Linked DNA regions of Homo sapiens. The protein of the gene in region 1 interacts with the protein of each later gene in a biochemical or structural test. Each region holds a gene or a part of one and is shown in the gene's direction. Other genes may lie near its edges. The genes, in order: ECT2 and RACGAP1.

The links.
Region 2: the proteins of ECT2 (region 1) and RACGAP1 form a complex in vitro, tested with the Homo sapiens proteins (3 studies listed by BioGRID and IntAct, with this or other methods).

Annotation. Positions count from the first base shown.
Region 1 is NC_000003.12:172,742,067-172,757,041, forward strand, and holds the start of ECT2 (protein ECT2), read left to right. Parts: upstream 1-8,659; 5' UTR 8,660-8,791; intron 8,792-8,935; exon of another isoform or gene 8,936-9,050; intron 9,051-10,083; exon of another isoform or gene 10,084-10,406; intron 10,407-12,442; 5' UTR 12,443-12,464; coding exon 12,465-12,594; intron 12,595-13,228; coding exon 13,229-13,308; intron 13,309-13,416; coding exon 13,417-13,509; intron 13,510-14,916; coding exon 14,917-14,975. UniProt on the Homo sapiens protein: Guanine nucleotide exchange factor (GEF) that catalyzes the exchange of GDP for GTP. Promotes guanine nucleotide exchange on the Rho family members of small GTPases, like RHOA, RHOC, RAC1 and CDC42.
Region 2 is NC_000012.12:50,019,250-50,034,930, reverse strand, and holds the start of RACGAP1 (rac GTPase-activating protein 1), read left to right. Parts: upstream 1-9,436; 5' UTR 9,437-9,533; exon of another isoform or gene 9,534-9,603; intron 9,604-13,753; exon of another isoform or gene 13,754-13,869; intron 13,870-15,124; exon of another isoform or gene 15,125-15,187; intron 15,188-15,681.

The DNA of each region.
Region 1 (14,975 bases):
GACAAACAAGAGGGTTTAGTAAGAATGTCTGAATCAAAAAAAAAAAAAAAAAAAAGAGGACTATTAGATTTGGTATAGAAGAAGGAACTGTGCCTCCTGGTGAGAAAAGAATTCAATGGTGGGTCAGGTGCGGTGGCTCATGCCTCTTATCCCAGCACTTTGGGAGGCCGAGGCGGGCGGATCACAAGGTCAGCTGTTTGAAATCACCCTTGCCAACATGGTGAAATCCCGTCTCTACTAAAAATACAAAAAAAAAAAAAAAAAAAAAAATTAGCTGGGCGTGGTGGCAGGTGCCTGTAGTCCCAGCTACTCAGGAGGCTGAGGCAGGAGAATCGCTTGAACCTGGGAGGCAGAGGTTGCAGTGAGCCGAGATCTTGCCACTGCATTTCAGCCTGGGTGACAGAGTGAGACTCCATCTCAAAAAAAAAAAAAGAATTTGATGGTGGTCTTTCCTGTGGCAGCCTTGGTGTTGTGGGGGCAGGTGTTGTGGATAGGGTAGGGTGGGGAGAGAGGAACAGCAGCACAGGTGCCATTGCTCCTGCGGTCAGGGGTGGGAAGGCAGCATAGAGAGCCACCATTTCCATCAGGCAATTACAGGTCAGCTGAGATAACATAGTAGTAAGAGTAGCAGCAACCATAATAGTAGCAGAAATAATGGTACTATTAACAGCTAACATCTATTGAATATTTACTATGTGCTAAAATGTTTCAATTATCTATATTAATTCCTTCAATTCTCATAACAATACTTTGAGATAAGTACTATCATATCCTTTTACAGAAGACCAAACTGAGGTATAGGGATGTAAAATAACTTGCTTAAGGTCACATGGCTAGGAAATGGAAAAGCCGGGTCGAAACCCAGGGAGTCGGGTTCCCTATTCTAAAGCTATAGAGCCTCTCAAGCAGACAGGGGAAGCCTATTGTAGAGAAGTGTTCGGGGACCCCAAGGTGTGAAATCTCTGCAAAGTGATGGTGGCCCAAGGAGAAGAGGCCCACTTGGGAATGACAGCGTGTGAGTCAAAGTGTCTGTACCTGGTAGTTGCACTGCAGAAGGGGCTGGCTAAGACAAAAAACCAGGGAAACGAAGAAGTATTGGGGAGCTGTTCAGGCTAAGAGACTAGGAGTGGGAAGCTCTTCAGTTCATGTCTGCACAGAGAGAAGTAAACAGTGTTGGTAGCTACTTTGAGGCAATTTGCATAAGCAATCTTGGAAAACTGACTTGGAAGAAATCAGGTTTCAGCAATTAAGCTATGGGGATTTAAGAGTGAAACATTAGCTCACGTTATTTTAAGCCACATTCCTTGAATATTACCCCCTGTTATACTTTGGATATTTGACACGCCAAACCTCATGTTGAATTGATCTCCAGTGTTAGAGGTGGCACTAATGGGAGGTGTTTGAGTTATGGAGGAGATCTCCCATGAATGGCTTGGTGCTGTTCTGGGAGTAATGAATGAGTTCTAGCTCTGTTAGTTCCTGCAAGAATTGGTTGTTTATAAGAGTCCAAGCCAGGTGTGGTGGCTCATGCCTGTAGTCCCAGCTGCTCAGGACTCTGAGGCAGGTGAGCCCGGAGTTTGAGGTTACAGTGAGCTATGATTAGCATTCCAGTCTGAACAACAGAGTGAGACCTTGTTTCTAAAAATGAGAGTATGGCCTCTGGCACCTCCATCCTCTCACTCTTGCCTCCTCTGTCACCATGTGATGCCTCTGCACAAAACAGCTCCCCTTCCATTTCCACCATGCGTGGAGGCTTCCAAAGGCCTCACCAGAAGCAGAGGCTGGCACTGTGTACAGCCTGCAGAACCATGAGCCATGAGGCCAGGAATGGTGGCTTACGCCTGTAATCCCAGCACCTTGGGAGGCTGAGGTGGGGAGATCACTTGAGGTCAGGAGTTCGAGACCAGCCTGGGCAACATGGTAAAACACTGTCTCTACTAAAAATATAAACATTAGCCAGGAGTGGTGGCATGTGCCTGTAATCTTAGCTACTAGGACGGCTGAGACAGGAGAATCACTTAAACCCGGCAAATGGAGGTTGCAGTGAGTCAAGATCACACCACTGCACTCCAGCCTGGATGACAGAGTGAGACTCCATCTTAAAAAAAAAAATTGTTTTAGAGTGGGATCTCACTCTGTCACCTAGGCTGGAGTGCAGTGGTGCAATCATGGCTCACTGCAGCCTTGAACTCCTGGGCTCAAGTGATCCTCCCACTTCAGCCTCCTGAGTAGCTGAGATTACAGGCACATGCCAGTATGGCCAGCTAGGTATCCCTTTATAGCAATGAAATGGGCTAAGATACCCCATAATCATGGGGAAAGAGTTATCACATATTTTTAGGAAACATAGGGTTAGCCAGGTGTGATGGCTTATGCCTTGTAATTCCAGTGACTCAGGAGGCTGAGGTGGGAGGATTGCTTGAGCCCAGAAGTTCGAGACTAGTGTGGGCCAAACAGCGAGACACCATCTCTTGAAATTAAAAAAAAAAAAAAATTAGGTGGGTATGGTGGCACACACCTATAGTCCCAGCTACTCGGGAGGTTCAAGTGGGAGGATTGCTTAAGCCCAGGAGTTCCCAAGAGTTTGAGACTGCAGTGAGCTATAATGGTGCCACTGCCCTCTAGCTTGAGTGACAGAGCAAACTCCATCTCACCTCAAAAAAAAAAAAAAAAAAAGAGCAAGAGAAACACATAGGGTTAGAAAGCATGTTCTAATATTTAGTATGCAGATAATTTATTCCAATTTATACACAAAACCGTAACCAAGTTAATAAGTAGAAATATGCAGTAATAAGTCAACATGAACTTACTGACCTATTTTGATATCATGAACAATTGATAAAGCAACAGTAACAAGTAGAGAAGGAGTATTCATGGCTGCTAATTTACCGATGGAAAAAAAAGATGCAGAAACCCCAGCCAGCCTCTGACATGAAATAAGATATGGACAGAAATCAAACTACTAAAAAATCTGGTTATTTTCCCTTCTTTCCTCTTTTCCATAATTTTTTTTTTTTTGAGATGGGGTCGTGCTCTGCTGCCCAGGCTAGAGTGTAGTGGCTTGATCTCAGCTCACTGCAACCTCTGCCTCCTGGGCTCAAGAGACCTTCCCACCCCATCCCCCCACTCTGAGCAGCTGGGACCACAGAAGTGCATCACTATGCCCAGCTAATTTTTTGTAGTTTTGGTAGTGATGGGGTTTCTCCATGTTGCCACAGGCTGGTCTCAAACTCCTGAGCTCAAATGATCCGCCCACCTCAGCCCCCAAAGTACTGGGATTACAGGGGTGAGCCACCGTGCCCAGCCTCCATAGATATTTTTTGAGAGCACAAGTGCCAGGGTACAAAGATGGAAAGGATATGGTTCTTTTCCCTATTCTTGAGTAGCTCATATTTTAATAGAGGAGACAGCCATGTTAACCAATATTTCCAATACAAGGTGACAGGAGCCATACTGAGGTATAAACAGTATTAAGCTCATACAAATCAGAAGAAGCAGTTTACTCTCCATGGGATAGTCAAAGAAGGCTTCATTGAGGTGATGCTTGAGTGGGGTCCTGAATGAATAGGAATTTTCATGCAGACAGAGGGAGGCAGGGCAGGTGGAAAAGAATATTCAAAGGTAGGGATTTAGGAAATCGCCTGGAATGTTTGTGGACTGACGAAAAGTTCAGTATGGCTGAACACAGGGTGCGTATGTGGTAGGGATGAGGGTGATAGAAAATTAGGTTACAGTCATCTTGGGAAGTCCATCTTATACTGGACTTTATTCTGTGAGCAGTGAAGAAACCATGTCTTTTGGTTTAGTTTTGTTTTTAAGGAGGGGGATACATAGTCATATTTAGTTTTCTAAATGAAGATAATTCTGTGACTGATGACTGGAAGTAGAGAGAGTGATTAGTTCCCAAAAGACCAACTAGAAGGCTGTCCTTGTCATAGTTTGGATGAGAGATAATGAAGGCCTAAACTCGGGCAGTGGACTGAAGGGGGAAGATTCAGATTCTAGAAATATTTTTCAGGTCAAATTGGGAGAATGGTGTTGGGGTTGGTGGTGCAGGGAGACCAAGAGGAGGAAGGGAACAGGAAGATGACTTTGAGAGATCCAACTTGGGAGTCAGAGTGAATGGGGATTCTACTAATCAGGAGAGAAATACAAGAGGCAGAGGAGATAAAGGATGGAGAGCTGGGGAAAAGAAGAATTCACTTTAGCACATGAAGAGTTTGATAGGATTGTGGGTCACAGGAGCAGAAAAAATTGGTAAACAACTGGCATTATAGAGTGGGTTTCAACAAGGTCTGGCAAGAAAGAGAGACGTGGAAGCATATGCATATAACTTAAATCCCTGGGAATGAATGAGTTCACCTAGGGAAAGGGGGTTGCCTGAGAATAATACTTTGGGGAACAATAATATCTAAGCAAAGGAAACCGAGAAGGAAACATCAGAGAGGCAGGAAGAGAAGTAAGACAGTGAAAGTGGTGGTCTTTCAGCAGCTGAATTAATGACCATGGGTTAGAAAGGGGTGCTATCATTAGGGGGAACTGAAGGCTAAATATCCTTGATTCATGTGTGAAAGGGATTAAGAGATGGGAAGAAAATTTCGTAATCAGAATGGAATGTTTGAAGTTAACATTTGAGAGCTAAAGCAATTGAGTGTAAAACATTTAGGATATTGTCCATCAAAATAAGTGTTGAATTGAGGTTTTGGGATTCAAAAATTCAAGGAACTGTGAATCTAATTGGCTGGTTCATCAAAGGAAGAAAGACAGAGAACTAGTCTTCTGAATTTGGAAACTGTTCTATTTATTTAATGATACTGCTATTTATCAGAAATTTATATGGATGTAGTAATTTTTACATATTTTGATTCCACTCTCATCCTCTATATTTAATCAAAGTCCCAGTAATTTTTCCTATTCCTTATCTCTCCAACCCATCTTTTCTATCTTAGTTCAGACTATCATTTCCTATGAGTTTGAATTCAACCATATTCTCACTGGTCTTTCTTCTATTTCATTCTTCTATTTCAAGTGAAGTTGTGTTGTGTTCCCAGATTGCTACTTTTTTTTTTTTTTTTTTTTGAGACGGAGTCTCGCTCTGTTGCCCAGGCTGGAGTGCAGTCGCGTGATCTCGGCTCACTGCAAGCTCCGCCTCCTGGGTTGAAGTGATTCTCCTGCCTCAGCCTCTGGAGTAGCTGGGCCTACAGGTGCGCACCACCACGCCCGGCTAACTTTTGTAGTTTTCTTAGAGACGGGGTTTCACCATATTGGCCAGGGTGGTCTCGAACTCCTGACCTCAGGTGATCCGCCCGTCTTGGGCTCCCAAAGTGCTGGGATTACAGATGTCAGCCACTGTGTCTGGTCCTGATCGCTACTTTTAAAAAATAACACAGACCATATAATTTCCTTGCTTCAAGGTTTTTAATTGATCTTCAGTGCTTTCAGCATAAAGTTTAAACTCTGTCATGACAGTGGAGCTCTTCCCAAGCTCCTTCTAACATGGCATTTATTTTACTTTTTATTTTTTATTTTTTGAGATGAAGTCTCGCTCTGTCGCCCAAGCTGGAGTGCAGTGGCGCAATCTCTGCTCACTGCAAGCTCCGCCTCCCGGGTTCACGCCATTCTCCTGCCTCGGCCTCCCGAGTAGCTGGGACTACAGGCGCGTGCCACCACGCCCGGCTAATTTTTTTGTATTTTTAGTAGAGACAGGATTTCACCATGTTAGCCAGGATGGTCTCGATCTCCTGACCTCGTGATCCGCCCGCCTGGGCCTTCCAAAGGCATGTAATCTCATGCCTGGGATTACAGGCATGAGCCACTGCACCTGGCCAGCATTTATTTTTTTTTGAGATGGGGGCTGGATGGTGGGGGGGAGGGGCGGTCTTGCTCTATCGCCCAGGATGGAGTGCAGTCACTACCTAGGCTGGTCTTGAACTCCCGGCTTCAAGGGATCCTCCTGCCTTAGTCTCCCAAAGTGCTGGAATTATAGGCATGAGCCCCCACACCTAGCCTAACCTAGCGTATGTCAGTTGTCTTCCACTGTCCTCTTCATGTATATTATGATCCAGCCACACCAAACTGTTTACTGTCTCCTATATATATTGAGCTTTTATGAGAGCCTAAAGTGCACGTAAACAAGCTAATATTAAGAATTTATGTTTTTAAAAAAGTTCAAGGTTAATATGCCATTCAGTTCAATTGCCTATGCCGTATATAGTATTTAAAAATTTTTCATAATGCTGATCTTGAAACACTATAGCACTTGAAACAGCTTCTGACTCAGTAAGACTAAGTTACTTGTATCATTGTTTTGTAGGTATTTGAATTCTGTGAAAACCTATGCATGCAATAAATTTTTCACCGCAAATACAGCTATCTGCTAGAAGTGCCATGAGAACAAGGCCCATATTTGTCTTGTCACACCTATATTCTCAGTGCTAGCATAGTACCTAATGGGTGCTTAATAGTTATTAAATGAATAAACTATGATTAGGTTAATCAGGACATCCAGTCTCTCAAACATTATGAATGAACTTGGATCTAGCTCATTCACTCTCGAAATATTTATTTGGTACCTACATGTGAAGATTCCTGTGTTTATTAGAGAGCAATGTGTAACATTTGCCTTTGCAGTACTAGCTTTTTGAAAATACCTGAAGATGAGGGATCATGTTTTACTTTACCAGACACCAGCCCTCTGCTAGGTGCAATTAAGTGGCATATGATCACCTATGCACACGATTATCTGAAATACTCCTCTCCACATTGCTTTCTTTGAGCCTGCAGACAGATCTATACTAGACTTTATTTACACTCATCTATTATTTCTGGGTTCTAATGCGGGCTAAAATATTTATTAGGAGACACTGGGTAAGTTACTTAAACCTTTCCTACAGTTTCATGGTATCATGGGACTATGATACCTACTTGTGGGTTGTTTTAAGGATTAAATAAGGTATAAAGTGCATAGTAAAGTATCAGTATGTTCATTCTCTTTCTTCTCTCCCTTATACTGTAATTATCTGTTTATCTGCTAATTTCCCTCACCAGATTGTGTGGTCCAGACAGGCAGTTTTCTATGCCTTATTCATCTTTATAACCCCAACAAGCACAATGGCTGTCTTAAAATTAGTAAATATTTGCTGAGTAAATGAAGACCTAAGAGAGTGAAAAAGGTTGTATTACCCGTTTATTTGTTAATCTAACTGCCACACATCCCTTAAAAGAAATCAAGTACAGCTTTTGTTAGGGAAGCTTAAAATTCATGGCAATGATACCATACACAGTTAATCATTAGCTTTGGAAAGTCTGTTGAGCAGAAAGCGGTGCACAAAGGAAGTAGGGCTGCTTCCCACAATAGCTTAATATGTTTTCAGTGATGAACGTTTTTGGAATGCTGGGCACACCCGACTTCCAAATACGCAAGCACATTCCAAATGGAAATTTCAATTACTGTTTTTCTTTTTTTCTGCCGTAACAGTTATCACAGCATTTTAATGAAGGTCAGACTTAAATACTGACAAGCAGGGAAACCAATAATTACCAGATTGCTTCATTCATTTTGTGGACAGCATTATAAACTTTTCAGGCATTCTAAGATTGCCTGACAAAATTAGAAAAAATTGTTAAGTCCCCACAACCTGCTTGAGATGCTCACAAGTGTTCCATCCCAAAGTACACGTTTGCCTCTTCTTATTGGTATTTAGGTTCTGGCATCTGATTCCCCTTTCTTCTTCTATTTATATTAGCCTTCAGGTGGGAACTATGGAAAACCCACCTGGTGGGGGTGTATTTTTCTTAAGAGATTGTGTTATATGGTATCATATTTAGAAAATAAAGAAATTATTTTCATAATAGCAACGCTAATCACAGGAAAAACTTGATACATTCTTGACTAGACTTTAGGGGAAAGTACAAGTTCTTAGTGGGCGGAGGGGGGCAAAGACGAAGCAATTTGGCTCCAAAAATTCTAGAATCTCGTGGCATATTTTTATCAAATTCAAGCTTATCTTTAAAAAAATCCGAGAATTTTTCTAATTTCTAAGAATTGATTCTAACCCGCGATACTCCCTAGATGGGAGCGCAGTGCTTTAAATAATAGCATTTAAATAAGCGGCTGCTGATTTGAAGTCCACCTGGGGAGTCCGAGTTCTAGGACCGGTCCTTGGCCCTGCCACACGCCAATACAACCATCAAAGTCAAAATCCCTTAACTCAAATTTAAATACATTCCTAAAGCAGAAAGCATCCCGATAGGAAAATCCTACAGCTCACAGCAAGCAGCAGGGAAACATTTATCTCTGGCGGCACTGATTTAAGCTTAAAAGATTTGGTATCGTTTAAAAAAAAAAAAAAGCTGGGTGGGGCCGAGGAGAATCCACCCAAACTTTCCTCAGGAAGTAGGATGTTTACTGAGTAAATATGCGGTAGTCACAGAAACACCTGCTACTCCTTTAAGACCTCAGGAGCCACCACCGCCACCTCCTGGCCACATCCGGGCACTTCTCTGCAAACTCCTGGCGTCCCGACGCCCGAGTCGTTGGGCTTATTTGAAACACACGCACAACCAATCAAGCGGCGCCTGCCGGGACTTGGAGAGCGTCGACCAATCACCGCCCCTCTGGAGACTCCTGCCTATGGGAAAGAGGTTGACATCACGCGCCAATCGGCATGGCTCTTAGAGAGAGCAGCTTAGTTTTTGAATCGGTTGTGGCGGCCGCCGGCGAGGAATGGCGGTATTTGTGAGAGGAGTCGGCGTTTGAAGAGGTGGAACTCCTAGGGCTTTTTTGAGAGTGGTAAGGACTCTGTGTGAGTGAGAGAGGTGCAAGTGGGCGAGCGGCTCCAGAGCCAAGGGCTCTTTTGCCTGCGGTCGACGTCCCCGCCCCTAGTGACCGCGAATTCCGGAGCGCCCCAGCTCAGGCTTCCCGGATCCGGGAACTCCCTCGCCGCACCCCACCCCCAGCAGCCGGGCCCTGACGCGGAGTGGGAGACCGAAGCCCCCAGTATTGCTGGGCATCTTCGCCCTCACCTGTTGGCTCTTTTGGACAGAAGAGTGTGGGTGAAGGGAGGGAGTTGGGAAAGGGATTTTGGCAAGCCGCGCAGCCCTGTGGCTTTGGGGGCCGGCACTTGCAGCCTTTGGGGGCTTATCTCAGAGTGCGCCGTGGTTTTATTCTAGGATTCATCCTGGCTTCTTTGCGGGAAGTTTAATTTTTCGTTTTTGCAAGATAAATCCAGGCCATCCGCCCCTCGTCCTCCCCAGCCACCCGGCACAGATGTGTCCGGCTTAGTGGTTAAAGGCGCAGCCTCTGGATTTAGCCGGGCTTTGAATACCTCTTTTACCCCTTACTAACAGTTTGACTTAGGGGAAGTTGCTTAACCTCTCTGTTCCTACGTTTCTTCATCCATACATTGAAAATAATAATAGTACCTGCCTCTTAGGATTACTGCAGAGATTAAAAGGTTTAGGACAATGTCTGCCACGTATTAAGCGTTAAGTAAATGTCAGTTGTTAATAGTAATGTTATTGTTAATAACACCACCATTATATCTTGGATTGCATTTTAGTCCTTCACCTTGGAAGATGATTGCCTAAAAAGTATTTAAGTAAAAGGAAACTTGAATGTTTGTTTACATGGCAAATTTTATCTCTGGGATAAAAGGGGGCATGTGTTATAGTGTGTTTAGTTAGAAGCTCCTTGGGTCTGTTCTTGGGTGAGAAGCTGTGTAGGTTTATGAACACTGATCCTATTGTGCTTATTTTAAAGGCTTCTGGAATACAGTAATTTGAAAAAAAGTGATTAATATATTTCCATTTCTAATCTGACTGTTGGATGTTAGTTATGTCATCAAGTTACCGTAGTGCATCTCTTTTTCTCTATACATTTTGAAGCTGTTTTGGCAATAAATTGATCATATACAGTATCATCAGGGGCAATTTTAATTATTAATCATCTGCTTTCGATCATCTGCTATGCTCCCTCCCTTTTATTAATCATCTGCTTTTGATCATTTGCTGTGCTCCCTCTTAAAGAGGGAGGCATAGGAGAAAAATGTAAATATTTTCAAGAAGTTTTTTTTTTTTTTTTAGACGGAGTCTACCTCTTGTTACCTAGACTGGAGTGCAGTGGCACGATCTCGGCTCACTGCAACCTCTGCCTCCCGGGTTCAAGCGATTCTCCTGCCTCAGCCTCCTGAGTAGCTGGGATTACAGGTGCCTGCCACCAAGCCCAGCTAATTTTTGTATTTTTAGTAGAGACGGGGTTTCATTGTGTTGGCCAGGCTGGTCTCGAACTCCTGACCTCGTGATCCGCCCGCCTTGGCCTCCCAAAGTGCTAGGATTACAAGTGTGAGCCACCGCGTCCGGCCTTTCAAATGGTATTTTTGATTTTCCTCTTCCAGTCCTTAAAGCAGGTTAGCTCATCTCCTGACTTTTTTTTTTTTTTAAACATTCTTTTAAGGGGACTTTGAATGAAAGCCACTTTAATGCCTTTTCATTGGAAATGGTTGAGTGTAGAAGACTTAAAATAATAGGGCTGGATAGAATTTATCATTGATTCTAAATTAAGGCTGTTACAACTATTGGACCGCTCCTTTGGAGAGCCTTAGAATAATGATTGACATGGATGTATGGTAAAGCCATAAGAAATATCCATATTGTGAATATTACATGAGAATAGTTGTTTGTTGTTCACTTTAAGACATCTATTCAGTTTTCATCTTAACTAGATTTGAGTTGTAGTACTATGTGTGTTCCACCAATGTGGAAACTGAGGTTTAACTGACTATGTGCAGGGCTGAGACAGGAAGCTGAGTTGCCTGATTTTGAAGTGTCACATAACAGCATACAGTTTAAACTGTTACTTTGCTAAGACTCTGGAGGAAGGTATTTGTATATTTTATTAATCTGAAGAAGTAGGAAAGGGGAAAGTCTGACATGTAGCTCTCGTTAAAGGTGGGTCCTCTGTATATTTGCCTAATATTTAGAAATTTACTCTCAGTAAAGTTGACTTATTGAAAATTGATAAAAAAATCTCTAAAAAAATTTTTTTAGAGAGACAGGGTCTTGCTCTGTCACCTAGACTGACTGGAGTGCAGTGGTGGGATCACAGCTCACTACAACCTCAAACTCCTGGATTCAAGTGATTCGCCCACCTCAGCCTCTTGAGTAGCTACTATAGGCACCTGCCACCCACACCTGGCTAATTTTTAAATTTTTTGTAGAGATGGGGTCTTGCTATGTTGCCCAGTCTGGTGTTGAAGTCCTGCCCTCAAGTGATCCTCCTGCCTTGGCCTCCCAAAGTGCTGGGATTTCAGATGTGAGCCCCCAACCCACCCTGATGAAAACTTGTTAAACCTTTTATTCCCTGTCTAGCTTTTAAACTCTTCTTAAGTCCTGGAAAACTTAAAAAAGGATTTTCTTTCATAGTCCAGAGTTATATTGGCACTCACCCATGCATAATTGTTTTGTCAAACCTTTTAGGGGAGAGGTGTTTTTAAAGAATTATGAAAATACTGACAAGGGACCAGCCCAATTATACCGGAGAGGTTTAGAGACATCCACAGAGGATGAGTCAAGAGTGTTGGATTGGGGGTTGGAAGACAAGATAGGTGGAGAGTCGAGCACTAAATGCAAATAGATGTGATGTAAATTATGATTTGTGCCTGAAAAATAGCTGAGAAATTCATTGTTGCTGTTGCATAGATTGTATAGGGACTGGGGTAGTTACAGATGGTGAGGGTGAATAGTTAGGCGGGGACCAAATTGTGAACTTGGTGGTGAATTTGGACTTGGACATATAAGGAGTACTCATGGAAGTTGTTAAGCAGGGAAGTGATATGGTCACATTTGTATTTAGGTGCATATTCCTGAAAACCATGTGGAGAGTGATTTCTAAGGAAACTGATGGTAAAGTTGTGTGGAGCTGGTTTATTAGACCAAGTGACCATTGTGTCATTGAACGTATAGAGAAGGGGGGCCAGATTCCAGAGATACTTGAGGTGGGATTGATAGGAATTTTGGGGAGGGAAATGTGGGAGAGGAAAAAATTAGGATAGATCTCAGATTTTTGGCTAGGATTTTTGTGGGAGGTGTGTTATGGTGGTGTTATAATTGAATATAGGAAGAGAAATTGGTTGAGGGCAAAGGTGTGGAGAAGGGAGGTAGAATAATATTTATGACTACAGTTGAGTGTTTGTTGTATGTCTAGTAATGTTCTATGTGCTTTTGATACATTGTTATTTTTATTATATTCCTGTGAGTCAGGTATTAGTATGTTTATTTTACAGAAAAAGAAACTGAGGCTCAGAGAAGGTCAGTGACTTTCTTTGGTTCATTAAAAAAATGGGTAATAATACTTTTTATAAATTCTAGGTAAAAAGAGCCTCTAATACTTACTTTTGCCCAATGACCATGTTTATGTATTTTTATTCAAATTTTATTTTTTCAGCTGATTTAGAAGAATACAAATCATGGCTGAAAATAGTGTATTAACATCCACTACTGGGAGGACTAGCTTGGCAGACTCTTCCATTTTTGATTCTAAAGTTACTGAGATTTCCAAGGAAAACTTACTTATTGGATCTACTTCATATGTAGAAGGTAAACCTGTTACCTGCTTTAAAACAATCAATTTCTATTTTAATTCTAAACTTATTAGTGACTTTCTTAAGATTTAATTTTAATACCAACTGTAATGCTAGAGCACAGGTATTAAGTAAATATTTGTTTACAGAATCCTTTTACACTATGTCATTTTTCTGATTATTATTTGGGTTATTTGTATGCTTTGCAGCTTTGAAAAGGGAGGCATCTTAATTTGGATATTCCTTTTTCTGTATGTGAGGGCGGTCTAGCTACAGCATTATTAGCTAGAAGTTATACAGTCATGACTGGTTAGGTGAAAGCTACTTTTTCCTTTACCACTTTATAAATGGGTTTTTCCTAAAATTATATGCACTGTTGAGGAGGATGACTATGTAAGATAGCGCATTCTCTGGCTAGGAGGAATGCTGATGTTTGTATACCCTGCTACAATATGGTTTCTCTTTCTCTAAAGTGATATATAGCCAGATATTTTTGTAATAAGTTGGGAGTTGAGTCCTATTAAATTTAGAGAAAGTTATGATTCCCTCAAAGATGTAATACATACTAGATATAGCCAAAAGAGCGATAAGGACCTACTGATTGTGATGTTAATACATGATAAACATTGAAACATTTTACATTTTAACAGAAGAGATGCCTCAGATTGAAACAAGAGTGATATTGGTTCAAGAAGCTGGAAAACAAGAAGAACTTATAAAAGCCTTAAAGGTACGGAGTTTTAGGTTTTAGTTTTTTTTGTAATGCAATTTTTCTTCCATCAGTGTGTAAATAGTTTCATAGCTTTCTTAACCTCATACTTAAGTCTCTTTTCCACAGACTATTAAAATAATGGAAGTCCCTGTTATAAAGATAAAAGAAAGTTGTCCTGGAAAATCGGATGAAAAATTAATAAAAAGTGTTATTAATATGGTAGGTCAAAGTAACTCATTGCATGTGGCATGCTGCACTTCCCTTGATTGTATTATTCTACTTTCTGGTGATTGGAATTAGGCACAAGGTGTATTGTGTGCAATCTGAAGCTTAATGAATAGAAACTGTTTTATACTTTTTAACTCCTTAGCTTCTTTTTTCTCATTCATTTTATATTTAGTCTAAATTCTTGCTGTATTTCCAAAATTATAAATCACGGTAATTTATAATCAGGGAATTTGCCTCAGCATACGAAATAATCTAATTCTGGAATCCAGCTGTTTTAGTTTGCTAGGGCTGCCATAACAAAATACCACATAGTTAATTGCTTAAACAGTAGAAATTTCTTTTCTCACAGTTCTGGAGGCTAGAAGTCCAAGATTAAGGTGTGTGTAGGTTTAGTTTCTCTTGAGGCCTCTCGCCTTGGCTTGCAGTGTCCTTTTGCTGTCCTCACATGGCCTTTCTTCTGTGTGTCCTTGCATCCCTGGTGTTTCCTCTTATTGGGACACCAGGTTGGATTAGGGCCCACCCCTATTATCTCATTTAACCTTAATTACCTCTTTAAAGTCCTTATCGCCAAATATAGTCACACTCTAAGGACTTCATTCTTCATTCTAGGTTAGGGCTTCAACATGAATTTTGGGGGTACATAATTTAGCACATCACACTAGCCTTGCAAATAAAATTCAAATAATTTACTGACCCATTTTGAGTTAAAAAAAAATTTTTTTTTTAATTTAACACGAGTTACAAGAGTTATATAGGTACTTTAGTATCTTCATTATTTTTCGTGGATGTATAAAGTGTTTACTGTAAGTAACTTGCCTTTTTATATCCTACATTTGCCATGCTGCAACTGCTACATATTGCACATCTTTCTCATATATCTTACATATCTGCTAAAATGATTATGCTGATTTTCCTTTCTGTAAGTATTAAGTGCTATAGTATTATTTTCCTATTTTTCTGAAGATAGTTAATTTGTACAATAAGAACTTTATGTATGGTATCATTTTCTTGGTCAGTAGTGGATATCTTTCTAATGCATCTTGATATCAAAATGCATGTACTTAAAAACTTTAGCATTCTAATTTTATGGAACTTATGCATACTTGATGATTTATGACTAATAAGTAATAAGTCAGAATTATGCCTTTATAATACTGATCTTTAAAATTTAAGAACTTAATTTGAATGGAGATATGTATATGTAAAAATGTAAGTACGTAAAGAAATATGGTTGTTCATTAAGTGTAATGCTGATTATTGTGTGATAGAAACTTATTTTCTACAAATATAAACATGTTAAAGTTGATATTGAATTGATTGTTAAGCCTTATTTAGAGAGACAGATGGATTATTTGATATATAAATAATTTTTATTTCTGCTAACTATATGATGAAAAGGACATTAAAGTGGGCTTTGTAAAGATGGAGTCAGTGGAAGAATTTGAAGGTTTGGATTC
Region 2 (15,681 bases), on another chromosome or scaffold:
CATTGTTTTTGATTTTTTTTTTTTTTTTTGATGAGAGAGAGAGAGAACATCAAAAAAAAAGGGGAAAGAAACAGAGAATGTTATATGTAAATGCTTATTTAGAAATAAAATGCTTGTTCCCTGGTGTCACAGAGAAACAGCACTTAAACATAAATTTAATTCTCTTAGCAAAGCCGTTTTTACTTTCTGCAGAAAGGGTGCTCATCGCAGATGGAACAATGGCAAGAGCACATTTGAACAAAAGAGGGAAGCAATTTTTATTCCTTATGCAGTTTTTCCCTGCTACTGTCTTGTCTCCATTGGCTGGAGCCAGACTGCACAATTTAAAACCCGATTGGCTAGCAGTTTAAAACTTTTCTAAATAGGTAAAAGTAATGGAAGGATAAAGGAAAAGAGGAAGTTGCTTATGCCAAACAGGGAAGGGGCATAGGCTGCGAGCTGGTACCTGCCTGTGAGCATGTCCAGCACAAATATTTTGGTTTAAGGTACAAGGACATAGAATGTACTATATGCCTGTGAGTGTGTTTAACAGCTACATAGGATAGGGCCCAACAAAGAGTTATTACCATAAAATAAGGAGGCTTAAAGCAAGTTAGTCTTTAAAATAAACTATTATTTCTAACATTATTTTTTTAACAAGAAGGGAAACTTTGAAGAGGAACTTTTTACTTTCTACAGAGAGGAAGACAGAGGGATACAAAATAATTATAAGTAATACTCATGGAGTTACTATGTGGCAGGCACTGTGCTAAGAGCTTTGCAAACACCCATTTATTGCTCCCAACAGTGCTTTACACTATTATTATCATCCCCATTTAATAGATGTGGAAATGGAGGGACAGAGAAGTTAAGTTGCCCACTACACAGGTCATAAATGGTGGAAGTAGACCTTCACCCAGGGCCAAAATAACTCCAGGCCTGTGTGTTTACCCACTGTGCTTATTGTTTCTCTTAGAGAAATAGGAAGAAAACCTTCAATGGCTCACTAGTCCCTCAGGAATTACACTGAATTTATCTGGCCTGTCATTCAAGGTACCTCAGCTCTGCTCTCAAAAGTCCTTCCAGCCTGTGGGGTGTGATGGCTCAGGCCTGTAATCCCAGCACTTTGGGAGGCCAAGATGGGAGGATCACCTGAGGTCAGGAGTTTGAGACCAGCCTGGCCAACATGGTGAAACTCCATTTCTACTAAAAACACAAAAATTAGCTGGGCGTGGTGGTGCGCGCCTGTAATCTCAGGTACTCAGGAGGCTGAGGTGGGAAAATCGCTTGAACCTGGGAGGTGGAGGTTCCAGAAAGCCGAGATCGCGCCACTGCACTCCAGGCTGGGAAAGAGAGCGAGACACTGTCTCAAAAAAAAAAAAAAAAAAAAAAAAAAAGTCCTCCCAGCCTTACCCGCCCCCCAGCCAAGATCCTCTCACTCCAGTCAGGCTGGACTGACTTCCCTATTTCTCTCAGCACTTCCTGCCTACTTCAGTCCCCAGCCTCCTCCCTGTTGGGGTCCTATTCATCCTTCAAAGCTCAGCTCAGAGGTCTCTTCTTTGACAGTCTTGAGTCCCAGCCAGAGGTGGGCCCTCCCTCCCTGGACCCCCAGAACACAGCCCCCACCTCCGCACTCTGCGCTGCAGGCCCTGGCCTTGCACCCCGCATCGCCCCACCCCCGCCCCTGGGCTTAGCGCACAGCCTGGAAGGCAGAAGGGCTCAAAGCTTCTTGGTGTAATTCACAGGGGGAACGATAATCCTGGATGGGAGGTAGGGAGCCAGACCTCCAGAGGGCAAGTGAGAAGGCCATGGGAGGCGGAACCCAGCGAAGGCGAGAGAATGAAGACACGCATCGGGCTGTGGCCAGACGGTTGGCAGCCAGGGACCTAGCCAAGCCTCCCTGCCCCCGACGCCCGCGTCCAGGGATCGTCGATGACAGTTCGCCTGTCGGGACATCGGATCAGGCGGCCGCCCCTGGGGAGGTGAGGGCCGGTGGGGTACGGGCGCGCTCGGGAGGTCACCCGCAACCACCTATCAGCACCAACCCCATCATTGGTGCCTGGGCGCGGGGGAGCGCGTGGGAGGGGGGCGCCCCCGCTTGCCGCCCCCGCGCGGGATAACAGGCGCGTTCCAGCCTGACCTCTCCCGCACCTCGGAAGCACTCAGAGCGCGCGTCTCGCCGGACATGGGAGATTAAATAACCGGATACTGCACCTCTCCTAGGTGGCAGAGCGGGGAATCGAACCCAAGCTTTCTGGCACCAGCTCTCAAAGCTCTCAAGCTTCTCCGGTTACAAGTGCAGCCCCAGGATCCCTCCCTACTCTGGAAGCTACAGTTTGGGAAGAAAGGGAGTTAGGAACCCGCGCCCCCACGCCACCCCGCTTCACACACACACACACACACACACACACACACTCACCTTTTCCTTTGCTGCCTTCTCGCTGGGGCGGGTGCAGCAGGGAAGGAGATTGAGAGGAATTGGAAGGGTGGGTGGTATTTTGGGTAGAGGCAGGTGTAAGAGAGACAGCATCTCCAACCCCCATCCATTATTTGGGACACCGTCCTATTGAACTTAACTCACCTCCATTACACAGCTATTTATTGGAGCTGCAAAAGCAAGACTAGTACATGGAAGGAGTACCATCCCTTCTTCTCTGGAAGTTCATAGTCTAGTAGGGAAAATAGGCATTGCAGAGTGTTTACAGTGGGCCAGGAACTGTGCTAAGTGTTTTATAAGGATAACTCATTTATTCCTCTCGACAACCCTAGGAAATAACTATTATTATTATTATTATTATTTATTTTTGAGACAGAGTCTCGCTGTGTCACCCAGGCTGGAGTGCTGTGACACAATCTTGGCTCACTGCAACCTCTGCCTCCCAGGTTAAGCAATTCTCCTGCCTCAGCCTCCCAAGTAGCTGGGACTACAGGCACGTGCCACCACACCAGGCTAATTTTTGTATTTTTAGTAGCGATGGGGTTTCATCATGTTGGCCAGGCTGGTCTTGAACTCCTGACCTTGTGATCCACCCTCCTTGGCCTCCCAAAGTGCAGTATTATTATTATTATTATTTCCATTTATAGATGAGCAAGTCAAGCCACAGCTGACCTGTGAAAGGCCGTGTAACAGTGACTGGAAGAACCAGGAAGCCTAAACAAATCAGGAGTATGAAAGGGAGAGAACACAGTGCTGCGGGAGTTTATGCCAAAGGCACGGACCCAGGCATCAGCGTTTAAGTTTAAACTGTCTAGAGGGTGAGTAGAACTTATCCTGGTGAAGAGGCACTGGAAGTTCGGGAAGTTCCGGAGAGTGCTGGCGCACAGGGAAGGTTGAAGGCCCCAGGTGGAAATGGTAGCCAGGTGCGTGGAGGAACTGCAAACGAGGGTTGGGCAGTGCAGCTAGAAGGGCGAGCAAAAGCAGCCTAGGAGGGCCTTGTAAAGGATTTTGGTCTTTTTTTTTTTTTTTTTTTTTTGAGATGGAGTCTTGCTCTGTTGCCCAGGCTGGAGTTCAGTGGTGCAATCTCGGCTCACTGCAGCCTCCACCTCCCAGGTTCAAGCAATTCTCCTGCCTCAGTCTCCTGAGTAGCTGGGATTACAGGCACACACCACAATGGCCGGCTAATTTTTTTGTATTTTTAGTAGAGACGGGGTTTCACCATGTTGGCCAGGCTGGTCTTGAACTCCTGACCTCAAATGATCCGCCTGCCTCAGCCTCCCAAAGTGCTGGGATTACAGGTGTGAGCCACCGCGCACGGCAGAATTTTAGTCTTTATTAGAAGGCAAGTTGAAGTCATTAAGGATTTTAAGCAAGGGAGATATATGATTAGAATCACATTTTTACTTTAACATTTTTTTTCAAGTTTATTTTTAAAAATTGGCCGGGCGCGGTGGCGTCTGTAATCCTAGCACTTTGGGAGACCAAGGCAGATGGATCACCTGAGGTCACCAGTTTGAGACCAGCCTGGCCAACATGGTGAAACCCCATCTCTACTAAAAATACAAAAAGTAGCCAGGCATGGTGGTGGGCGCCTGTAATCCCAGCTACTCTGGAGGCTGAGGCAGGAGAATCTCTTGAAACTGGGAGGCGGAGGTTGCAGTGGGCCGAGATCACGCCATTGCACTCCAGCCTGGGTGAAAGAGCAAAACTCCGTCTCACACACACACACACACAAAAGACATAAAATTGAACATATTTATCATGTACAACATGATGTTTTGAAGTATAATGTATATATATTATGGTTTTTGTTTTGTTTTGTTTCTGAGACAGAGTTTCACTCTGTCGCCCAGTCTGGAGTGCAGTGGCGCAATCGCGGGTTACTGCAACCTCTGCCTTCTGAGTTCAAGCAATTCTCCTGCCTCAGCCTCCTGAGTAGCTGGGATTATAGGCATGTGCCACGACGCCCGACTGATTTTTGTATTTTTTAGTAGAGACAGGGCTTCACCATGTTGGGCAGGCTGTTTTCAAACTCCTGGCCTCAAGTGATCCACCCTTCTCAGCCTCCCAAAGTGCTGGGATTACAGGTGTGAGCTACCACGTGCTCTCAGACTGTACATATATTATGGAATGATTAAATATAGCTGCTTTTTTTTTTTTTTTTTTGAGACAAGGTCTTGCTCTGTCACTCAGGCTGGAGTGCAGTGGTGCAATCATAGCTCACTGCAGCCTTGAACCCCTGGGCTCAAGTGATCCTCCTGCCTCAGGCTTGCAAGTAGCTGGACTAGCCAAGCCCACTACATTCAGCTAGTTTGTTTGTTTTAAATGAAAGCAAGTTTGTTAAGAAAGTAAAGGAATAAATGAGTGGCTACTCCATAGGCACAGGAGCCTAATTTTTCAGTTTTTTGTAGAGAGGAGGTCTCGATATATTCCCCAGGATGGTCTTGAACTCCGGGCCTCCAGTGATCCTGTCGTCTCAGCCTCCCAAAGCACTGGGATTACAGGCATGAGCCACAGCTTGTCTGGCCAAATCTAGCTCATTAATTAAGCTATGCATCACTTCACATAGTCATCATTTCTGTAGTAGAATTGCATTTTAATTTTTATTTATTTATTTTTTTTGAGACGGAGTCTCGCTCTGTTGCCCAGGCTGGAGTGCAGTGGCGCAATCTCAGCTCACTGCAACCTCCACTTCCCAGGTTCAAGCAATTCTCCTGCCTCAGCCTCCCGAGTAGCTGGGACTACAGGCGCCCGCCACCACGCCCAGCTAATTTTTTGTATTTTTAGTAGAGATGGGGTTTCACCATGTTAACCAGGATGGTCATGATCTCCTGACCTCGTGATCTGCCCACCTCGGCCTCCCAAAGTTCTGGGATTACAGGCGTGAGCCACCGTGCCCAGCCCTCAAATTTTTTTTTAATTAAATTAAATTTTATTTTTTGAGACAGAGACTCGCACTGTCACCCAGGCTGGAGGGCAGTGGCACAATCTCGGTTCACTGCAACCTCCGTCTCCCGGGTTCAAGAGCGATTCTCCTGACTCAGCCTCTCGAGTAGCTGGGATTACAAGCACACACCACCATGCCCGGCTGCTGTTTTTTGTTTGTTTGTTTGTTTGTTTGTTTGTTTTTGAGATGGAGTCTTGCTCTGTTGCCAGGCTGGTGTGCAGTGGCGCGATCTCAGCTCACTGCAACCTCTGCCTGCCGGGTTCAAGTGATTTTTCTGCCTCAGCCTCCTGAGTAGCTGGGACTATAGGCGTGCAGACCACCATGCCCAGCTAATTTTTTTTTTTTTTTTTTTGAGATGGAGTCTCACTTTGTCGCCCAGGCTGGAGTGCAGTGGCGCGATCTCGGGTCACTGCAACCTCTGCCTCCCAGGTTCAAGCCATTCTCCTGCCTCAGCCTCCTGAGTAGCTGGGACTACAGGCGCACGCCGCCACGCCTGGCTAATTTTTTGTATTTTAGTAGAGACAGGGTTTCACCATGTTGGCCAAGATGGTCTCGATCTCTTGACCTCGTGATCTGCCCACCTCGGCCTCCCAAAGTGCTGGGAATACAGGCATGAGCCACTGTGCCCGGCCTAACTTTTGTGTTGTTAGTAGAGACAGGGTTTCACCATGTTGGCCAGGCTGGTCTTGAACTCCTGACCTCAGGTGATCTGCCTGCCCTGGCCTCCCAAAGTGCTGAGATTACAAGTGTGAGCCACTGTGCCCGGCCATAATTGCATTTTTATTTTTATTTTTTTGAGACAGAGTCTTTCTCTGTCACCCAGGCTGGGGTGCAATGGCATGATCTCAGCTCACCGCGACCTGTGCCTCCCAGGTTCGACCAATTCTCCTGCCTCAGCCTCCCAAGTAGCTGGGATTACAGGCATCCACCAGCACACTTGGCTAATTTTTTTCGCATTTTTAGTAGAGACGGGTTTTCACCATGTTGGCCAGGCTGGTCTCGAACTCCTGATCTCAAGAGATCCACAGGCCTCGGCCTCCCAAAGGGCTGGGATTACAGGCGTAAGCCACCTCGCCCAGCCATAATTGCATTTTTAAAAGATCACTTGAGGAGTAAAGAATGCAAGGGAGGGCAAACAGTTTCACTGGGGTTGGACTACCAGATTGGACAAGGGTAGTGACAGGGGGAAGGAGAAAAGTGGGCACACACAAGAGATCTGTACTTAGGAGTTTCACTCAGTAATTGAGGTGTAAGGGAAAGAGAGAAAGCTGAGGCATTCTACACTCCCCTGCTTCTCTCCCTCACCCCTGAGGTCCAATCATTTAATAAGTCCATTTCATTTCATTGATTGATTTCATAAATATCTTTCCCACCTGTCCCCTCCTTGTCATCCCACTGCCACTGGCCTAAATAGAGAGTCTACCTTTACATTTTTCCCTTTCCAGACAATCCTGCTTGCCATGTTAGCATATGTTCTATCCAAAGACAAATCAGTCAAGTCAGTCCAAGTCCCATTGTCTTGTCATTGAGTCCGTTACAGGATCAAGTCCAATCCGTTCCTAGTGTGGTCTCATCCTACTTTGCCAGTCTCTCCTTTTCCTTCTCAGGCCAAAGCTACTCAAGAAGCATCACACTCACTTAACCCCCAACATCACCTGAAAGTTGAGGTAAATGTTCCTTCACAGCCTAAACCTTCATAAACGCTTTCTCGTGTATTGATTGATTGATTGATTGATTGATTTGAGATGGAGTCACGCCCTGTTGCCCTGGCTGGAGTGCAGTGGCATGATCTCGGCTCACCACAACCTCTGCCTCCCGGGTTCAAGCGATTCTCTTGCCTCAGCCTCCCGAGTAGCTGGGATTACAGGCGTCTGCCACCACGCCTGGCTAATTTTTGTATTTTTAGTAGAGATGCGGTTTCACTATGTTGGCCAGGCTGGTCTCGAACTCCTGACCTCACGATCCACCCGCCTCGGCTTCCCAAAGTGCTGGGATTACAGGCATGAGCCACTGTGCCTGGCCTTGTGTATTTATTAAATATATGCTTGCCTCATTCTTCAGAGGTCACATGATCTTCCTATTGCCAGTAATTTTCCATTCCCTTCTCTCCTGTAAATTCCTATTCACACAAGACCCAGCTCAGATCAGTCTCTGCAGGCTTTTTTAACACTCCCACTCCCCAGATAGGATTAATTGCTTCCTTGTCTGTGCTCCTAAAGTACTTTATACATGTCTTTGTCCTACTACTTATTTCATTTTATTATAGGTATCTAAGCAGGCACAGGCTAATGCAATCAATGAATGCTCCTGACCTTGAAAGGTTGTTAGGAGGATTAAATGGGATAACAAATGCACAGTTCATATTTTCTTTCTTCATCCCTTTCTTAATAATATTAATAATAATCTGTATTGCAGTTTACCAAGTATAAACTTTGATAGTGTACCACACTGTGTCTCAGTCGATCTGGGAATAAACCTGTGAGATAGAGATGGGATTATTATTTCTACATTATACTTGGAGGAAGTGAAGTACAGAAGTATTAAAAAGTGATAATATGGGTGGGTCAGCCGAACGCCTGCTATTGTTCAAGGCCAGGTGGAGTGCTACTGTCTGTAATCCCAGTGCTTTGGGAGGCTCAGGTGGGAGGATCACCTAAGGCCAGGAGTTCAAGACTAGCCTGGACAACATAGTGAGACCCTTCTCTACAAAAGATAAACAAACAAGCAAAAGAATTACCTTGATCATGTGCCTGTAGTCCTAGGTATGAGGGAGGATCCCTTGAGTGTAGGAGTTCATATTTGCAGTGAGCTATAATTGTGCCACTGCACTCCAGCCTGCGTGACAGAGTAAGACCCTGTCTCTAAAATAAAAGTGGAGTCAAATTTTCGGGTTACAAAATTTGTGATGTGATTTTTGGATAAAATACAATTTTATATATTTATGGTGATGTTTTGATGTATGTATACACTGTGGAATGACTAAATCAAGCGAATTAATATATCCATTACCTCACATACTTTATTGAGGTGTGTGGTGAGAGCATTTAAGATCTACTCTTAGCAATTTTCAAATGCATTATACTTTGTTATTAACTACAGTCACTGTGTTGTACAATAGATCTAAATTTTCCTCTAACTGAAATTTTATATCTCTTGACCAACATCTCCCTAATCTCCCTCCCCCAAATCTGTGATCTTTCTTTTCTTTTTTTTTTTTTAAATTAAGGACCAATGTGACAGTAAGTGATCTTTCCTTTAAACCACAGCGCTTCTTGTATGCTCCAGCCAGTATTTTTCCAAATTGCGGGTAGCCATGCGTTGTTGAGTAGTGAGTTCTGGGTACTTTGCATGTAGTAAGGATGAGCAGAGTTTTCATTACCCGGTTGCAACGTAAAATGTATTTCTCACTGTGGGTCCAGAGTTTTTAAAAAGCATGAAAGCTCCTGTGCTAGCACAATGCCAAGTTCTAAATAACGTTTATTAAATGGAATTATAGTATTTTATTTTCATTTTGTATTTATTTTTGTTTTCTAGAGCTATCGCCTCCATTCGTAGCTACTGGACAGTAGAGACCATACCATCTTTATTTTTCCGATTCCCAGTGGAGTGCTTGTGATGATGTGGGCTCATTCAATGTGTGTCAAATAAAAGTCTGAATGGATACATCAATGGAAGGGATAATATAGCTCAGTGAATGTGCTTGAAACTAACTGCTGTTCTAACTCCTGGTATTCTTCTGATTCTACTGTGAGAGCTGACATTGTTCAGTTAATCGTTTCCAAGGGCCCTAGTCCCGCAGACAGTGAGACCAAGAATAATTCGCATTCAGGAAGTACCACTTGCCCTTAGTCAATATGGCATCCTGAATGACTTCCGGAAAGGGCACCGCAAAAAAAAACAAAAAAAACCGAAAAACCGTTGACATTAGTCAAAATGGCCACCTTTGGCTTCGCTTTGTCAGAATGCGCATGCTCATTCCCGTTCCCGTCACCTCCGCGTGGCCCTGACGCGTACGTCACACCGTAGAGGGACGGCGCGGGAGGAATAAATTTCTCTGTGATTGGTTGGTGAAGGTTTTCAAACCGGAGCTGTGGGCGCGGCGCTGCTCTGCCGTTGGGTGAGGCGCGGAGCGAAGTGAAGGGTGGCCCAGGTGGGGCCAGGCTGACTGAAGTGAGTAGTGGGGGTGCCAGACCAGGTGCGTCTGCCGCTGGATTGTGATAGGAAGCAGAGTGTTCGTGTGGTGAGCCGTGGCCGCCGCGGGGGTCCGGGACAGCGGGACAGCGGGACAGGCTGGCAGCCACAGCCTCTCCACTCGGGCTTTTCTGGGGTGGGGGTCGTGGCAGGTCGAATGGACGCGGCCTGGGAGGGTCGGGGGCTTCTGTCTTGGCGCCGGGTTTTGTGGAAAGCCGGGGGCGTCTTTTTGAGGTGGTGGCTGGACCAGGGCAGGAGTCATCCTAAACAAGAGTCTCTCAGTCAGATACGAGTTTAAGAGTGGTTGGAGTGACACCCCATCGTTTTCGAAGGGAAGAGCCCTGGTGTTTGAGAGGCCCGGGCGGCCTGCAGTGGAGCCCCTCTACTTCGTGGGTCTCGTATGTCTAGGGAGGCAAGGCAAGGCAATGACATCTTGTCCTTCTCATCCTGATTCTTACCCTCAGTAACAACGAGGCCTTACTTGTACACTTTCACGTACATTTCTCTTCACAGGATTTCATCCGTAGGCCGAGAGGTGTGTGTCGGAAAGTGGGGGTAGGTGGGTAGATAAGCCCTTTTTTTTTTTAAGAAAGCATTATCTTTCTAATGTGTCGGGTAAATAAGCTTTCCGAGTTATTGTAGGTGTTTAGAGAAGGCGCCTTTCCTGTAGCTTAATCATTCAATAAGTATTTATCTTTTGGAGGGGACTTAAAAAAATTTTTGTATATTTAGGGGGTACAAGTGCAGATTTCTTACATGCATATATCGCGTCGTGGTGAGGTCTGGTCTCTTAGTGTCCCCATCACTCAAATAGTGAACATTGTACCCAATACGTAGTTTTTCAACCCTCAGCCCCCTCCACCTTCCCATCTTTTGTATTCTCCAGTGTGTATTATTCCACTCTGTATGTCTGTGTACCCATTGATTAGCTTTCACTTATAAGTGAGAACATGCGGTATTTGACATTCTGAGTTATTTCACTGAGGATAATGGCCTCCAGTTCTATCCATGTTGCTGCAAAAGACGTGATTTCATTCTTTTTTATGGCTGAGTAGTATTCTGTGGTGTATGTCTGTCTATATATTACATTTTCTTTATCCAATCCTTCGTTGATGAACACTTAGGTTGATACCGTATCTTTGCTACTGTAAATTCTGCTGTGATAAATATATCAATGCAGGGGTCTTTTTGATATACTGATTTCTTTTTTTTTTTTGAGACGGAGTCTCGCTGTGTCGCCCAGGCTGGAGTGCAGTGGCGCGATCTCGGCTCACTGCAAGCTCCGCCTCCCGGATTCACGCCATTCTCCTGCCTCAGCCTCCCGAGTAGCTGGGACTATAGGGGCCCGTCACCACGCCCGGCTAATTTTTTGTATTTTTAGTAGAGACGGGGTTTCACCGTTTTAGCCAGGATGGTCTTGATCTACTGACCTCCTGATCTGCCCACCTCGGCCTCCCAAAGTGCTGGGATTACAGGCATGAGCCACCACGCCCGGCCGATATACTGATTTCTTACCCTTATACCCATTAGTGGGATTGCTGGATTGAATGGTAGTTCCATTTTTAGTTCTTTGAGAAGTCTCCATACTGTTTTCCATAAAGGTTGTACTAGTTTACTTTTTTTTTCTTTTTCTTTTTCTTTTTTGAGAAGGAGTCTTGCTCTGTGGTCCAGGCTGAAGTGCAGTGGTGCGATCTTGGCTCACTGCAAACTCTGCCTCCCGGGTTCAAATGATTCTTCTGCCTCAGCCTCCGGAGTAGCTGGAATTACAGGTGTGCACCACCATGCCTGGCTAATTTTTTATTTTTAATAGAGATACGGTTTCACCATGTTGGCCAGGCTGGTCTTGAACTTCTGGCCTCAAGTGATCAGACTGCCTTGGCCTCTCAAAATGATGGGATTAGAGGCGTCAGCCACCATGCCTGGCCTGTTTACTTTCATTCAATAGGTATTTCTTAAGTGCAAAGTGTAAGTAGAAGACAGTCTTATTTGGTCTTAAAGAATGTGCAGTTAATTTGGGGTAACAGAACTTAAAAAGATAACTGGTGAGTCTGGTAAGCCTATACACTGTTGAAAGTACTGTGCATTAGTACATCCCTTTTAGAAAACTTTTTGGCACTATTAAGAGCCATAAAATGTTTTTACACCCTAATATAGCACTCCTAGCCTTGGAAATCTAGTCTAAGGAAAACAGTCACCTGAAGAAAAATATTGTCCATAGGAATGCTCAATTCATTTATTCACCAAATATTTATTAGTCATTTACCAAATGTCAGGTACTGTTCTAGGCATCAGGGAAGAAAACACAAAAATCTCCGCTTTCTTGGAACTTAAGCTAGAGGAGAAACAGACAATAAACTGAATAAATATGTAAGTATGTTAGATGGAGAGAAGTGCTTTGGAACAAAGTAAAGCAGGGTAATGTTAGAGAAAGGCTGCAGTTTACAATAGGATGGTTGGAAAGACCTCACTGAGAAAGCAGCATTTGAGTAAAGATATTTGAGGTGAGAGAGTGACCATGCAAGAGATTCCAGGCAGAGGTAAGTGAAAAACTGGAAATGACCTAAACGTCCAAAGAAGAGAATAGTTAAATAGTTGTTCATCAACTCTTTAGAACTTAATGGAAACATGATAGAAGCAAAACACAAAATTATATGTAATGTATGATTGTAACACCATGAAATAAGAGTGTAAAATGGGCAAAGATTAGATCAGATGGTACATATAGTTGTTTAGGATAGTGAGATTTTTGTTTTGCTATTAATTTTTTGTTTTTGTTTTCGTTTTGTTTTTTTTTGAGACAGAGTTTCACTCTTGTTGCCCGGGCTGGAGTGCAATGGCGCCATCTTGGGTCACTGCAACCTCTGCCTCTCGGGTTCAAGCGATTCTCCTGCCTCAGCCTCCTGAGGAGCTGGGATTACAGGCATGCACCGTCATGCCTGGCTAATTTTGTATTTTTAGTAGAGACAGGGTTTCTCCATGTTGATCAGGCTGGTCTCAAACTGCCGACCTAAGGTCATCCACCTGCTTCAGCCTCCCAAAGTGCTGGGATTACAGGCGTGAGCCACCACACCTAGCCTGTTTTACTGTTAACTTTTTGAACATAGAAGATTAATAATAAACAGTATTTTTGTATCTGCTAAATGAATGTTATAGATAATAAAGGAAATCATTTTGGACTGAAATGGTTAGGGAAGGCTTCAGTGAATTGGTGAGACTTATTCTAGACCTTGAAGGATGGAAGACCAGAATAGGAAGAATTCACAGGGAAAAAAAGAGGTATTCAGTATGCTGAACTTCTAGTAATTTTCTGAAAAATCACAATTCAAATCTTCCCTTCCTTATTTTAGTCTTCATGTTGGATTGAGAACATTTTGTTTACTCTCTGCAAGTGATTTGCTTATAAAGAACATTTGGTTTCAAGATAATCCTTCTGTCCGCCAGTTGTATTAGAGACTTTCGATACAGTGAAGCAGAAGCTGGACATTTCAGGAAAAGAATTGTCCTCACATTGTCCTCAAATGTGTTCCTATGAAAGGATCTTAAAGTACTGAGATTATCTTTGAGAATGGTTTTCCTTGACAGCAGGGAATCTATATTGTTGATTTCTTGGAAATCTCCAGATTTAGCAATGTTTGTGGGAAAGTTTTTCATTAAAACACTTTCCTGAAAAACTCCAGCAACCTTTCATTGCTTTGTCTTAAAGTATTTAACACCCTTGATGCATCTAAAAAACCTGATATATAGGTCTCTTAATAATGTTGTTTGAAGGAGGAGGAAGAAGAGGATAGAGACTTTTCCCAGGATACCCTGCAGTAAGATCTGTAATAGTCTGTTTTTCTGAAGGATGATATCTACCTCTTGGCTGGGTGATTGAAATTAAATTGGGGGCTCAAAGCAATCACATCCAGCTGAGACTCTTTCATGGTGTTTCCAGATTGCTCCCTTAGGGATACTCACAGATTGGGAATCTGTAACATACTGACTTCTCCACCTCTGGGGTTCCCCATCAATAACAGCTGAGATTCTCTAGCACCTTTTGGTTTAAAGTGCTCCACAAACTGAGTTTCTTGCTGCACGCAGGGATCGTTTCAGCTTTCCCGAAAAGGCAGCAGTCTCTGTTGTGGAAAGTGACAGCTGTTTTACAGCTGCAAAAGCAATGTACTACAATATGACTTTGTTTTTGTTTCCTTTCACATTAGTGTATCTCCTAGCTATGGACTAAATAATACATGGGGGGAAATAAACAAGTATTCATGAGGGTGAAAATGTGACCCAGCAGGAAAATTACAACTATTTTCAATTGACGTTGAATAGGGTGAGTAAATTTTAGCTTTTTGAGTTACAATTTGGCTGAGATATCAGAGTTAGTACTGATATAGAAAGATATTTTTGTCATCTATAAATAATTCCTGAGAGTCACTTCTGTAGAATGTTAATAAAAATATATGGTCCCCTAGCATATAAAGAGAAGAGGATTATATTCTGCTAGTGCCATTTTTGGATTACCCTAAGTAAATCTATGTTAGAGGAAAAAATAACTCTTCAGAAGCAGCAAACCTCATCTAGAACAGCTTGTTTAAAAGCCTAGACCTGGCCAAATTTTGCTGTTTCCTTGATTCTTCTTGGTCTGGGTTCCAGCTATAATTTGTGTTTTATATGTGTTGCTGTTTGTATGACATGTTATGGTTTGCAGGAGGTCTCTGAGTAGGTCTGCAACATATATGGTCTAATTGATATTTTTGTAACTTATCTCTTCAATGTGTTGGGTTGGAGAGAATATAGATTTTGGACTCAGACCTGGGTTTCAATGAGAACTCGACATTTATTGGTTAATTTAAGGTTTCTGGACTTAGTTGCCCATTGTCTGTAAAATGGAGATAATTAAGTTAGTGAGGCCAGGCATGGTGGCTCACGCCTGTAATCCCAGCACTTTGGGAGGCCGAGGCAAGCAGATTGCTAGAGGTCAGGAGTTCGAGACCAGCCTGACCAACTTGGTGAAACTCCATCTCTACTAAAAATACAAAAAAAAAAATTAGCTGGGCCTGGTGGTGGGCACCTGTAATCCCAGCTACTCGGGAGGCTGAGGCAGGAGAATCACTCGAACCCTGAAAATGGAAGTTGCGGTGAACCGAGATGGTGCTACTGCACTCCAGCCTGGGTGACAGAGCAAGACACCGTCTCAGAAAAAAAGTCAAATTCACTTAAAGAAAAAGTGTACGTGAAGTGTCTAGTTTAGTGCCCGAATCATTTCAAAGCACCTAGTAAATACTGGATTCTTTTCTTTCTAATTGTATAGTATTATTTTTAAAAATGGTCTAAAATTCTGAATTTACTGATATCCTTATTTGGAGACAGCCTAGGGGGGAAAACACCTAGATTTGAGAATCACTGTTTTAGGATGGAAGTAACAACTATCAGACCAAAACCAAACCTAAACAAAAGAAACTCACTTCATACCAACTAAAAGATACCTTATATTTTGGTAGTGAGATTGTAAACTTATACATTTTAAAATTTTTGTAATATTCTATGAGGTAAATAGAGCAAGTGTTATTGTTTTCACTTTATAGATGAGTCATGGAATTTAAGTGATTTACTGAAGATTATACTACTGGTAGATAGAAGAGCTAAAGGTTTGTCCCAGGACCTTTTTATTTATTTATTTATTTATTTATTTATTTTAAGAGAAGGGGGTCTTGTGATGATCAGGGTGGTCTCAAACTCCTAGACTCAAGTGATCCTCCCACTTCAGCCTCCTGAATAGCTGGGACTACAGGCACGCACCACCACACCCATCTTGTCCCAGGACTTCTGCTCCCTCTCCCGCTTTTAACTGTTCTTTTTGCTTTAAACTATATTACACGTTGATGTTGAGGTAGAATGGAAATTCTTTTGACCATAGCATCACAGATATGTGTGTGTTTGTTCTCTGAATTAACACTTATCAATTTTTTTTTGTGAGCATCATATTAAATGCTACATGCTTGTGTGTGTAATATAGTAGTGCCGCATGTAAGGTTTCTCCCCTCAAATTTATATTCTAGCTGGGACACAGGGCAGAATCATATGGTAAAGTTTAATTCAAGTGCAAAGAGTTTGTATCTGAGTGGCAACTGCCTGAAGCAGT